Homo sapiens: one gene and its partner. The protein of the gene in region 1 interacts with the protein of each later gene in a pairwise test. Each region holds a gene or a part of one and is shown on either strand. Other genes may lie near its edges.

Evidence for each region. Proteins that work in one complex are often made in the same cells at the same time.
Region 2: the proteins of DAB1 (region 1) and RBFOX2 interact in binary tests that used the Homo sapiens proteins (3 or more experiments, as listed by UniProt).

What each region holds. Positions count from the first base shown.
Region 1 is NC_000001.11:57,015,061-57,022,060, reverse strand, and holds part of DAB1 (disabled homolog 1), read left to right. Parts: intron 1-3,708; exon of another isoform or gene 3,709-5,527; intron 5,528-6,629; coding exon 6,630-7,000. UniProt on the Homo sapiens protein: Signaling adapter of the reelin-mediated signaling pathway, which regulates the migration and differentiation of postmitotic neurons during brain development.
Region 2 is NC_000022.11:36,018,804-36,025,839, forward strand, and holds part of RBFOX2 (RNA binding protein fox-1 homolog 2), read right to left. Parts: intron 1-7,036. UniProt on the Homo sapiens protein: RNA-binding protein that regulates alternative splicing events by binding to 5'-UGCAUGU-3' elements. Prevents binding of U2AF2 to the 3'-splice site.

The DNA.
Region 1 (7,000 bases):
GAAGACAGGAAATAACATAAAAATAAGTAATTTGCATAATATATTTAAAAATGAGAAGTGATAGGGACAAAAGAAAATGCAGACCAGAGCATGGGGGCTTTTGAGTGCAGGCAGAGGGCAGGTGTAAGTGGAGCCCCTGTAGTCACGAGGGGCTCTTGCCTAGGTGACATGTGACAGGACTAGCAGGGACAGGAAAGTCTCAAGTAGGCATCAGAGTTCCAGGTACTCCAGGCAGAGGAATGACTTGGTCCCCCAAGTCTCCATTCCCTTCTCTATAATTGAGAAGATGGGACTAGATGCAATTTTATATCTCTTCCAGCCCTAACATTTGATTAAAAACACGCTGAGGACCTGCCTGGGTGTATTAGTCCATTCTCACGCTGCTGATAAAGACATACCTGACACCGGGTAATTTACAAAGGAAGGAGTTTTAATGGACTCACTGTTCCACATGGCTGGGTAGGCCTCACAATCATGGTGGAAGAAAAAGGAGGAGCAAAGGAATGTCTTACATGGTGGCAGACAAGAGGGCTTGTGTTCAGGGGAACTCCCCTTTATAAAACCATCAGATCTCATGAGACTTACTCACTACCATGAGAACGGTGTGGGGAAAACCACCCCCATGATTCATTTATCTCCACATGGGGATTATTACAATTCAAGGTGAGATTTGGGTGGGGACACAGCCAAACCATATCACTGGGTCAGTCACAGCACTGCTCTGGGCCCTCTTTCAAACCTGTACCAGATTAGGGACTTGGAAGACCTGGGTTTTAGTCTTGCTGCTTAACCAGCCACATTGGAAGCTATGGACAAGCCACTTCCACATATCCAGATTTCCTTTCTTTAGCTGCTAAAATTTTGATAGATTACCTCCAAGATTTCAACTTTTAGAACACGAGTCTAAAATTAATTTCAATTAGCATGTTTTTGCTTTCTGACTCTAGTTAATATGACAGAACTGGCTTCAGTTGGTGTTAAACTGTGTGCCCTATTTCTCCCTTAACTGGCCATAAAAATTTCTGTAGCTATTGAATCCCGATCTCCTTGTGACTAATTGTCCAGCCAGTGATAAGGAGACAGGGAAGTGAACTGGAGTATGTGATACAACGGATGGACTGGCTCCTGGGGGCTTTTGAATCTAATGGGCCAGGTTTGGATCCTGATTCAGCCATTATTTCTAAGCTTTAGACTCCTGGGCAAATTACTTGACCTGTCAGAGTCAGAGTTTCTTCATCTTTATAACTGAGTGTAAAATAATACTTACTTTGCAACAATATCAAGAGAATTAAATGAATCACTACATTAACTGCAGCTGTAGAAGTGGTATCACTACACACTGAAAAATGCTGGCACATCATCAATATTTAGTGTAGAATATGCTGTATTATTATGATTACTCTGATTTCTACAGTAGATGAATATATGTCCTGTTCTACCTATATTTTTTCCTTTACCTGGAAATTAGTGCCTGTAATAAAGTTTAGGTCTTCAGCCTCTTGACTGCTTATAGCAGACAGCAGGAGAATGGGTGGCCTGGAGAATGTACTATGTATGAACACAAGCTCTGCCACTAGCCAGCTGCACCATACTCAGATAAATATCTTCTGAGCCTCAGGGAACTTACCCCGTTTTAATGGGGATGATCATAATTCTACCTCATAGAGTTTTTCTAAGGATTGCATGAGTAAATGCACATTGTAAAATAGGTACAACAGTTCCTGGCAGTGCTTCCATCAGTAAGCACTCAACAGATGTTTGCTACATGGTTCTTCAGGAGCCTTGGATCTGCTATTCATACAGTGTGTAGCTGCATCAAATCTTTCCCTCATGGAGTTGCAATTTCTCCTATACAAATTAAAGAGATAGCAATCACACTCACCCCAGAGGCTTGTGGAAAGGATCACCTTCACAAAAATGTAAGCTGCACAGGGTAAGAATTTTTTTTTTTGGTGACTGTTTTGTTCTTTGTTTTGTCTCCACACACTAAAGCAGTGATTGGCACCTAGTGGAGGTATTTTTGAATGAATGAATCCATCAAATGAGATAATGTAGATAAGAGATGTCATACAAGTTCTGTATAAATGTTGGAGGAGTTCCTTCGTTTTTAGTGCTTTTCTTATATTTCAGTCTGCCTTTTTTTCTTTTTTCAAATAATGGGGGCATCCCCAGGTGTCAGCATCTGGCTGTAAATCACAATTTTCAACACTTTTTAAAAACCTAACTGTAAGGCAGCAAGGCAGGTGTTCCCTTTCACTCCACAGCAAGGAGATTTATGATTGCTCTGAACTTCACGGCATAAACAGATGCTCCTTAGTACCTCCTCCCTCCACTATTGGACATTAATTGTAAACAGTTAACAAGCTGTTAAGTGGCTGCAGTGGCAGCCACCAAGTGGCTCCCTCTGTCCAGTGCCACCACTGTCCTGCTGCTGACGTGTCCCTTCGCTCATGCACAAGACCATGTGGCCAGACAGCCTTAACTCACAGGCCGAGGAGAGCCAGCCTGCAGGGAACCCCTAGGAAAAGTGAGTGGGACCTGCAGGCTCCTAAACATGATACCCAATTACCCTGTGCTGCCTTTTTTCTTTTGAATATTGTACTTTGGTCTGGAGCAGATGGCATGAAGCCAGAGAGACATGCTAATAGCTCTCTCCAGAAAAGTGTGCACAGCCCATCTGTTAGCTCCTTGTGGAAAAAAAATAAAAGATGGGAGGGGAAAAAAAACCTGCCACCAACAGTAGAATCATCAGAGATCACAGCACTTATGCATTGTGGGTTTAATTAGACACCGGGAAAAATGCAGTGAATGTATTGACTAGGACTCATTTACCTTTATGTAGGGCCTTTCTCCCGTCCCAAACCATGCTAGGCAGGGTGGAAAGAGAGAGAGAATAAAGAGTTCCTGCCAGCAGGTGGTTTCTAGTCTCATCAGGGAAGATAGAACAACCAGGCAATTGCAAGGCAGTGTGACAAGTGTCATGATAGAGGTGAGCACAGGGTACTGTGGAAGCCCAGAGAAGGACCAGTGGTGCTGACAGGAGCAAGAAGCCATCCAACAGAGGTGATAGTGAACTGAGTCTCCAAGAGCAAATCAGGGTTAGACAGCACAGAAGCAGGGGGATGGCTTTCCAGGCAGATGGGCCAGCAGAGACAAGAGACAGCAGGTTGGGTTTTGTTTGCAAATGCTGGAGGGCAAGGTGCAGTGAGGATATGGATTGAAGATAGTGATGAAGAGGTGGAAGGAGCTGACCCCCAAGGACGCATAGCCAAGCTAAGACATCTGAGCCTTATACTTAAGACAATGAAGTACCATATATGCATTTAAAAACAGTCCTTCATGGCAGCAAGGAGGGTGGAATAAAAGCAAAGCCAAAAACAGGCTGATGTCAAGAGAGTGAAAACATCCACTCATTCACCAAAATGGGCATCAGGTCTTGGGTGATTGAATCTGTGGGTAGTTCTCCACCTGCAGACCCAGCACCCCCTTCTTATTACAAATATTTGCAATACCTCCTTTCACACCTTGAAATGAATTTCATAGATAATGTAGTCTAGCTACACAATTTTTCAAAATGAATATAATTCTCTAACTGTAGTATAAGGCAGAAAGAAAAGAAAGAGAACTTGTAATAAAAATATATGTATTTAAATAAGGAAATACTCAGGCGTGAGCACACTAGAAGACATAAGAGTCAGATGTATATACCTGTAAGTAGAATCACTACTGAAAGCCACAGCTGTAAGTCCAGGCTAATACAGAAGTGTCATGTGGCTACACCACCATGAGAAGCGCTTCTGTCAGGGATGTCAGGCACTGCCATTTTCCAAAATAGTGAACACCTTTTGACAGTGTTCCAAACCAAAAATACAGTCTTCTCTCCTGTGCACAGTTGTTGAATTCCTGGAAAATTAAATGCATTAAAATCAAATGCAAAGATAACTGAATTTCCATGTAATTCAAAGTCGATTCTAGGTGCAAATGATCATAAACAGGATGTGGAATAATGCTTTGTCGTACGCATTGGTCTCAGACATAATAGGATGTCTACTGTCAATGCTTGGGCCTCCTAAATGCCAGTAGTGCCACCCCCTCCTCTTGTGACAACCGAAACACACCCCACAAATTTTCTAGCCACCCCTAGGGGGCAGTAGCACTCCCACTGAGAACCACTGGGCCATATCAAAGTAAACCAGAAAACAAGACAGAGTTGCCGGATTCTTCATCTGTTGGTAGATTTAAGCCACTACATTATTATGCCATGGGCGAGGCAAGCTAAGCAAGCTTCACGTTTGAAATTTCAGCTCCAGGGCCTCTTCACCCCTCTTGTTTCAGTGCAGTTGGACAAAGTGGTCTTACAAGATATTCTCCATTTTGTTTGTTGACATCATTGTTTTATTCCGCAGAAGTGTTTAACACTGCGAGATTAATCAGCAAGAAGCCCAGGTGTCCTGTTGGTGCCTCTCTGGAGCCTCCTGTTAGGGAAGCACGGCATGAGAGGAAATGGGCACCTTGCGAGGAAAATGACCAGGCCTTGAATATTGGCTCTAGCCTGTATCAGTCAGATGAAGGCGGGTACATCTGTGACTTGAGCATGGAGTGAGGCACCCTGCATTGGATCTCTCTGGGCTCACAAGAGTCAGTGAGATGACTCATAATGTCATCAATGCCGTAACGCCCACCCATTGTCCCTTTGGAAGTTGCTAGGATACTCTGCATCCATTCCTCTTTTTTTCCTGGTACACTGCCTCGGTACATTCCTACTGACAGCCATGGAAAGGCTAGTTTTGAGAGGCCAGGCAAAGCTAGCTTCTCTGTTCTCTGCTCTGCCCAGCCTGAGAACTTGTCTCTCAGGCTCAACTGCACATAGAGGTGGCCATTGTGTCCCCTGAGAAGGGTGGGGACCCCTGGAAGCACATGGGAGTTTCCTGCAGGCCTGCAGTATTCTAATACAATCAAATAGAAGGCAAGGAGGTCTATTAACTGCAAAGATCAGAAATTGGTCTTGGCCATCTGGGTGAGGCAGTGTGTGGCACAAAGGAAGGAACCCTGGCTTTGGGGGGACAGACAACCTCAGTTTGACCCTGCTCCTACTTCATACAACCTGTATGACCCTGAGCAAGTTGCTTTTCCTTGAGCACCAATTTCTTCATCCCTAAAATACAGATAATAATACCTACCCTGCCGGGATTTCGTGAAGACATAAAACACCTACTAGTGTACGTGGCGTGTTGTAGGCATTTAATAAGTGGAGCTTGTTGCTGTTACTATGTTACTATTATTATTATAACAAGTGTTGCTTGTGCTCCTGTTGAAATGTATATGTCTTACCTAAAAAGAATAATACAGTGAACAATTATCATGGTAATACGTGTGAGTACAGGATGTGGGGTTTTGCAGTGTGTAACCTGTACTGATGCATGAGGTGCCCCTGAGTGGACAATAACTTTCTTTCTTTTTTTTTTTTTAGAGACAAGTGTCTCACTCTATTACCCAGGCTGAAGTGCAGTAGGGTGATCATAGCTCAGTGCTGCTTCAAACTCTTGGGCTCAAGTGATCCTCCCGCCTCAGCCTCCTGAGTGCCGAGACTATGGAACTCTGAGCATGTGCCACCATTCCTGACTAATTTTTTAAAATTTTTGGTAGAGAAGAGGTCTTGTTATGTTGCTAAAGCTGGTCTCAAACTCCAAGCCTCAAGCAATCCTCCCACCTGGACCTCCCAAAGTGCTAGGATTACAAGCATAAGCCACCACATCTGGCCCTATTTTTTTTTTATTCTCTAAAATTGGAATAAGAATAATAATACAGAAATCATGCATAATACCTCTCGCTACCATTTATTACATGGCTCTTGTATATTAAGCAACGTAATAAGTAACTTTCTAGCCTCTATCTAATCCAAACCATACTACTAACTAACATTTACTGAATGTTGATCCTGTGTCAGGTACAATACTCCACATATTAAATATGTACTATCAATTAATCTTCAAATCAACCCAGTGAGATAGAAGGTGTTTATACCCATTTTACAAATAAAGTCATGGAGCCCTAGACAGATTTAAGAACTGCTCCCCAAATTACATAGATAAGAAGTGGCCATTTGAATTTTAACCTAGGTCTCTAAAACTCCAACATTCAGATTCTTACTCACTCTGCACACTGCCTAAGTCCTGTGAAGGAAGGTATTATAACCTGGTTTTACCACAAAGAGTCAGACTCTTAGAGAGCTTATGCAATTGAGAGGGTCCTAAGTGCAGCAGGAAGAGGAGGCAAGGAGAAAACCCAGGAGGCCTGCCTTCCATCCTTCTGCCCTGTCCCTGAGACACACAGCTTCTGAGGCTATGAGACTTTAGAAACTTTTAGCAACTACAGAAATGTGATTACTAGCATTCTAGTTTTTGCTTACAGATCATCTCCTCAGAGAGGATTTCCCTGACCACTTCTCTAGGATATAGGCTCTATGACAGCAAGGACTTTGTCTTGTTCATCTTGGCATCCCCAGTCCCTGGCACACAGTCTGGCACTTAGTTGGTGCTTGATACATTTCTGTCAATTACCTGAGTCCATGCATCCTTCTTTCCCAGGACACCAGGGAAACACCTGACTCTCCTTTTTCATTCTCCCAGGTTACGTTGCAATGGGCGCTGTCCTCCCGTCCTTCTGGGGTCAGCAGCCCCTCGTCCAACAGCAGATGGTCATGGGTGCCCAGCCACCAGTCGCTCAGGTGATGCCGGGGGCTCAGCCCATCGCATGGGGCCAGCCGGGTCTCTTTCCTGCCACTCAGCAGCCCTGGCCAACTGTGGCCGGGCAGTTTCCGCCAGCCGCCTTCATGCCCACACAAACTGTTATGCCTTTGCCAGCTGCCATGTTCCAAGGTCCCCTCACCCCCCTTGCCACCGTCCCAGGCACGAGTGACTCCACCAGGTCAAGTCCACAGACCGACAAGCCCAGGCAGAAAATGGGCAAAGAAACGTTTAAGGATTTCCAGATGGCCCAG
Region 2 (7,036 bases), on another chromosome or scaffold:
GGGTTTCATCATGTTGGCCAGGCTGGTCTCGAACTTCTGACCTCAAGTCATCTGCCCGCCTCAGCCTCCCAAAGTGCTGGGATTACAGGCATGAGCCACCGCACCTGGCCAGATTGGCTCTTTTAGATAGATCACTGTGTTAGCAGTCTGGAGAGCGGGTTTGAAGAGACTGAAAAGGGACCACAAGAGACAACACAAAGGCATCCCAGCTCAATTTCCATAGACAAAATGAGAACAAAAAGTGCCACTTTTGAACCAACATACGTAACAAAACTTATAAAATTTGAAACACGACATTTTTACTGTTCCTGCCTTCCATGTACCACTAAAACAGCCAGTGAATCTGTCACCCACCCTCCCAACAGAGATCCCACGGGTTCTAAGAAATCCACATCCCCCCTGCAGACACTGTGATACTGCAGCAGTCCTTTCACTCCTTAGCAAAGAATTGTCTCCCCTTCCTCTGACAAGAGAGACCACAATGACCCAGTTCATTCCACTCCTCCACCCTGGATAATGAGCAAATGAGGTTTCCCCTTTAACACACTGCTCATCTCTAGTAGTTCCCAACTCTGGCACTTAATCAATCAGAAGCACATTAACCACTCCATGCAGATTAAACAGTAAGCAGGAAGTTAGTGAGTGCTGTATAGCAGGATATAAGGAAAGCAAGAAATAAACATGTAGTGCTGGGTTCCTTGATAGGCACCTTAAAGAATCTCAGTTCTCATTACAGTGGTTTATAAGAGTATACATTAATTCTCCCAGTTCACAGATGTGTGAGCAGGAGCTCAGAGATGTTGAATAGCTCATTCATTTGGTAAATGGAGAAGCCAGGATTCAAATCCCAAAATGAGAAGCTCTAAATGGTGTTTATTTACTACACCATATTTCAAGTATATATGGATAACAAATATGATTACATATTAAGGTTAGTAATAAAAATATCTCCCCTTTAAAAACAGAGAAGGGACTCATGGATAGGAAGAATCAATATCATGAAAATGGCCATACTGCCCAAGGTAAACTATAGATTCAATGCCATCCCCATCAAGCTACCAATGACTTTCTTCACAGAATTGGAAAAAACTACTTTGAAGTTCATATAGAACCAAAAAAGAGCCCACATTGCCAAGACAATCCTAAGCCAAAAGAACAAAGCTGGGGGCATCACGCTACCTGACTTCAAATTATACTACAAGGCTATAGTAACCAAAACAGCATGGTACTGGTACCAAGACAGAGATATAGACCAATGGAACAGAACAGAGCCCTCAGAAATAATACCACACATCTACAACCACCTGATCTTTGACAAACCTGACAAAAAACAAGAAATGGGGAAAGGATTCCCTATCTAATAAACGGTGCTGGGAAAACTGGCTAGCCATATGCAGAAAGCTGAAACTGGATCCCTTCCTTACACCTTATACAAAAATTAATTCAAGACGGATTAAAGATTTAAATGTTAGACCTAAAAGCATAAAAACCCTAGAAGAAAACCTAGGCAATACCATTCAGGACATAGGCATGGGCAAGGACTTCATGACTAAAACACCAAAAGCAATGGCAACAAAAGCCAAAATTGACAAATGGGATCTAATTAAACTAAAGAGCTTCTGCACAGCAAAAGAAACCACCATCAGAGTGAACAGGCAACCTACAGAATGGGAGAAAATTTTTACAATCTACCTATCTGACAAAGGGCTAATATCCAGAATCTACAATGAACTCAAACAAATTTACAAGAAAAAATCAAACAATCCCACCAAAAAGTGGGCAAAGGATATGAACAGACACTTCTCAAAAGAAATTTACGCAGCCAACAGACACATGAAAAAATGCTCATCATCACTGGTCATCAGAGAAATGCAAATCAAAACCACAATGAGATACCATCTCACAACAGTTAGAATGGCGATCATTAAAAAGTCAGGAAACAACAGGTGCTGGAGAGGATGTGGAGAAATAGGAACACTTTTACACTGTTGGTGGGACTGTAAACTAGTTCAACCATTGTGGAAGACAGTGTGGCGATTCCTCAAGGATCTAGAATTAGAAATACCATTTGACGCAGCCATCCCATTACTGGGTATATATCCAAAGGATTATAAATCATGCTGCTATAAAGACACATGCACACGTATGTTTACTGCAGCACTATTCACAATAGCAAAGACTTGGAACCAACCCAAATGCCCATCAATGATAAATTGGATTAAGAAAATGTGGCACATATACACCATGGAATACCATGCAGCCCTAAAAAAGGATGAGTTCACGTCCTTTGTAGGAACATGGATGAAGCTGGAAACCATCATTCTGAGCAAACTATCACAAGGACAGAAAACCAAACACTGCATGTTCTCACTCATAGGTGAGAATTAAACAATGAGAACACTTGGACACAGGGTGGGGAACATCACACAATGGGGCCTGTCCTGGGGTGGGGGGAGGGGGGAGGGATAACATTAGGAAATACACCTGATGTAAATGACGAGTTAATGGGTGCAGCCACACCAACATGGCACATGTATACATACATAACAAACCCGCACGTTGTGCACACGTACCCTAGAACTTGAAGTATAATAAAAATAAAAAATAAAAATAAAATAAAAACAGAGAAGGGACATATATCCTACGGTCTCAGATTAAGGGATCACTCACAAAAGTGACAAACGATCACAACTGGAATCTCCAAATGCTACTAAAAAAAAAAAGGTCACTTCTGAGCATTAGTGACCAAAAAATGTTCAGACTCAAATAATCAAAGCAATCTGGCTATCCTCCAGAGAAATATCTCAAATCCTCCACACACTTTCCCCTCAGAGTCCCTAAGACAATGTTTGAAAAAACTCATGGCTGACTGCTCATTCTCTTGAGTAAATGACTTCCCAAACTACTTTGCCCACCCAAATTACAGAAATGCGTCCAGGATTCACATGGCAGTTCTGATCCGATTTGTCCCAATCCTGGCTCAAGCAGCTTTGCTACTTTCCTAACTAGATCAGCATCAGCCAATGGGTTTATTCAAGCTGATCTGTGATGGATTAGATAATGAAACCTTAGCCATGTAAGCTGCCTGCTTGTATTGGGGTTGTAGAGGAGAATAAGAAGAAACTCAATACTCCTAGGGGCCACCTAAAACACCAAATGTACTCACCATCCCTCACTCCATCTGTCTGCTCATGCTCCAATTACTGCCATTTCCTTCCAATCATGTCTGTGGTTCTTCCCTCCTGCCTTTGAAGGAAGTGCACATTTGCCCCAGAATAAAGATGTTTACTATGCTTTACAAATGTATATCAACAAAAATTCAAAGAAATCTGCTTACTAAAATGACTGTCTTTTTCTACAAATTATTAAAGCCTGACATCAAACTGAAGGCCTGAGAGATGTTAAACTAGAGATTCACTAGCAACATTCTTGTTTATACAAAGTAGCATAACTCAATTTCTTTCTCAGCAGTCCTGTAAACTTGAGGCCTGTCTGCACCAGTCTGCTTTACAGCAAAATGAAAGTTAAATTTCTAGTTAGCTTCTGTTGTGTTCACATGTCAGCGTGATAGTGAAAAAAAAATGACAGAGTAGCTAGAAAATGGGAGGGAGTTGGGAGACAAACTCAACTCAAGCTAATCTCTTGAGTCACCCTGAAGAATAATTCTACTTTGAAATCAGATCTGACTTTCTCCTTCTCAAATACATTTCCAGTTTTACATCTGCAGACTTCCTTGTAAGACATGGGGAAAAAAGCAACAAGTTTTACATGACTGTTCCTCAGTTTCTCCATCTACAATATTTACCACTCTGGTAGTGTTACAGGCTTAATGTCTGTGTCCCTCTAAATTTCGTATGTTGAAGCCCTAACCCCAGTGTAATGGTATTTGGAGGTAGGACCTCTAGAATTAGCTTCAGATTGGGTCATGAGGGTGGGAACTACATGATAAATGAGTGCCCTTATAAGAAGAGGAAGAGACCACTGACTCTCTCTCCCCCAGGGCACAGACAAAGGAAAGGCCATGTGAACACACAGCAAGAAGACAGCTATCCACAAGCCAGAAGGTGGGCCCTCACCAGACATGAAATCTGCTGGCACCTTCATCTTGGACTTCCCAGCCTCCAAAACTGTGAGAAATAAATGTCTGTTGTTTAAGCCACCCAGTCTATGGTATTTTGCTGTGGCAGCCCAAGGACACTGGGACAGGGAGAGATGAAAAATTCAGTAATTTCAGTGAAATATTGTTCATGAAATTACTTGCAAGAAAAAAAAAACACAATATTTTTATAACTCTTCTTGAATGGTAGCACCATGCTTAGTTTCAGCACCAAATACCAAATGAGGGCACAAAGAGACATCCACCTATGAGGAAATAAGCCCATAAATAAGCAAATGGGAAGATAAACTACTTCAATAAACACAGCATCTACAAAGCAACTTCAGGCTATCTGGAACCCCTTCCCTGAAACCTGAAAGAAAGTCATCTTACTACTAGAATCAGCTGCTAATAGGAATAACTGCTGAACCCACTTGGCTAAACTGGATTTATGACTCTATGGTGAGAAGCGGTTACTTGGCCATATAATAATTATACCATATCAACATTTCACTGACACAAAGAATTCTGCTGAAAGCTATAAGTAATAAGGTACATCTTACCTTATACAGCAGCTAAACTCTTAGAAAACTGCACAAAAATAAAATTTTTATGAATCAAATTGTTCACTAGAAAAGCTGACCAAAAGAATTCATTCCCCACTACATTGTATAGAGCGTAAATTTCATACATATTAAACTTAAAGTGAAATGAACCTCTAATAGCCCTATATTTAACTCATTTAACTTCCCACAAACTTTGAGTACAGTATTTCCAAGTACTCTCTTTAACTACATTTCTCAAACTGTACATCAGCTTTCCAGTTGAGTTTGTCACTTCCCTCCTACTCTCTGGTTCACGTTTCTCTATTTCTGTACTCTTTCCAGGGCTGCACTGACTCCTCTTCCACCTACATCAAGTTTCTGTATACTGCCTTTGAAAGCACCGACCCTTCCTCTCTTTCTCCTAGGGTTCCTTCTGAGCCTAAGGATTATAACAAAAGCATCACAGACTCTCTGGCGTTTCCTAAACTCCATTTTGGTAAGTGATGATTTACTCCAAAAGCTTAGTGGTACAACTTAACAAGATTCAACTTTGGAATCTAACGCTTAGCACTACAGCTCCATTTAGTAAGCAGCCTTGGGAATGACCCCAGTAAATGAACTTATTCTATAAAAAGCGGTTAATCCTTTGACATTCAAAGTGCCTGGAAAATTCTGTGATGATACCCTCACTCTGGAATTTCACAATTTTTCTTAATCCTTAACTATCTGTAAAAGGTAAATTTCAATTTCAATTTAACAGGCATTGAGCACTTACCAAGTACCCAAAACTGTTAGGTATTACGAAGGATAAATACAAAGGAAATATAGTTCCTATCTTTTAGAAGCTTACAATCTTAGCAGTGAAACAAGAATAATAAAACAATTAAGGGACAATAAAAGATGACACACAATTAAGCATCAATATACCAAGAGGCAAGAGTAGGATCGGAATGGTGTGAACTAAGCTGTCAGGGAAGGCTTCACAAAAGGAGTTAGAAAACGTGTTAAGAAAACAGGCCAGGTGCAGTGGCTCATGCCTGTAATCTCAGCACTTTGGGAGGCCAACGCAGGCGATCACCTGAGGTCAGGAGTTCGAGACCAGCCTGGCCAACATGGTGAAACCTCATCTCTACTATAAATACAAAAATTAGCGGGGTGTGGTGGCACATGCCTGTAATCCCAGCTACTCAGGAGGCTGAGGCATAAGAATTGCTTGAACCCAGGAGGCAGAGGTTGCAGTGAGCTGAGATCAAGCCACTGCACTCCAGCCTGGGCAACAGTGAGACTCCATCTCAAAAAAAAAGAAAAAAAAGACGTGTACTTTAAGACAAACCCACATACCCAAAACACTGGCTACGATAAGATTTTTTTTATTTTTTTGAGACAGATTTTCGCTCTTGTTGCCCAGCCTGGAGTGCAATGGCGCAACCTCAGCTAACTGCAACCTCCGCCTCCCGAGTTCAAGTGATTCTCCTGCCTCAGCCTCCCTAGTAGCTGGGATTACAGGCGCCTGCCACCACGCCTGGCTAATTTTTTGTATTTTTAGTAGAGACGGGTTTCACTATGTTGGCCAGGCTGGTCTCGAACTCCTGATCTCAGGCGATCCACCCGCCTCAGTCTCCCAAAGTGCTGGGATTACAGGCGTGAGCCACTGCGCCCGGCTAAGATTTTTAAAGTGTGTATTTACATAGGGCCTATAGATATTTCTAAACCACTGATACCATCTCCTAAGACTACCTGCCCTTGCTCTCTCTGCTCCAGCTATTAATACATTGGTCTCCTGTTTCCAAACAAACCAAGCAGTCTTTCTCAATGCCTGTGCACCCTCACCTCCTCTACCTGAACCCTCTTTCCGAAAGCATCTGAATGGCCCATTACCTCACTTCACTCATAGGCCATCTATCTTAAAGCCCTTCCGTAACCATCTTCATTCTCTCCCTTTCCATCTCTCCCTTTCCCTGCTTTTTCTTTTTAGCCCTTATCACCACACAATTATAGTTGTTGATTTATTAGATGTCTCTTTCCATTCAATATTAGTTCCATGACAGCAAGGGTTTTTTGTTGTTGTTGTTCACTATTATATCTCTTAGGGTTAAAACAGTGCCTGGGATGTAGCAGCTGCTTAATAAATGTTAGTTCAATGAATAAACATTAAGTATATTCATGTAATACTCTCACACTTCTTTAAAAATGCACGCTTCTTTAAAAAAAACTTTTCGCCCATTTGTCTCCCCACATAGATTGCATGCACCTTAAGGACAGTGAACTGGACTTATAACTTTTAGAAGGTAACTTAGAACTTGGCCGGGTGCGGTGCCTCACACCTGTAATCCCAGCACTTTGGGAGGCCGAGGTGGGTGGATTACAAGGGAAATCATCTTGTACACATACTTTA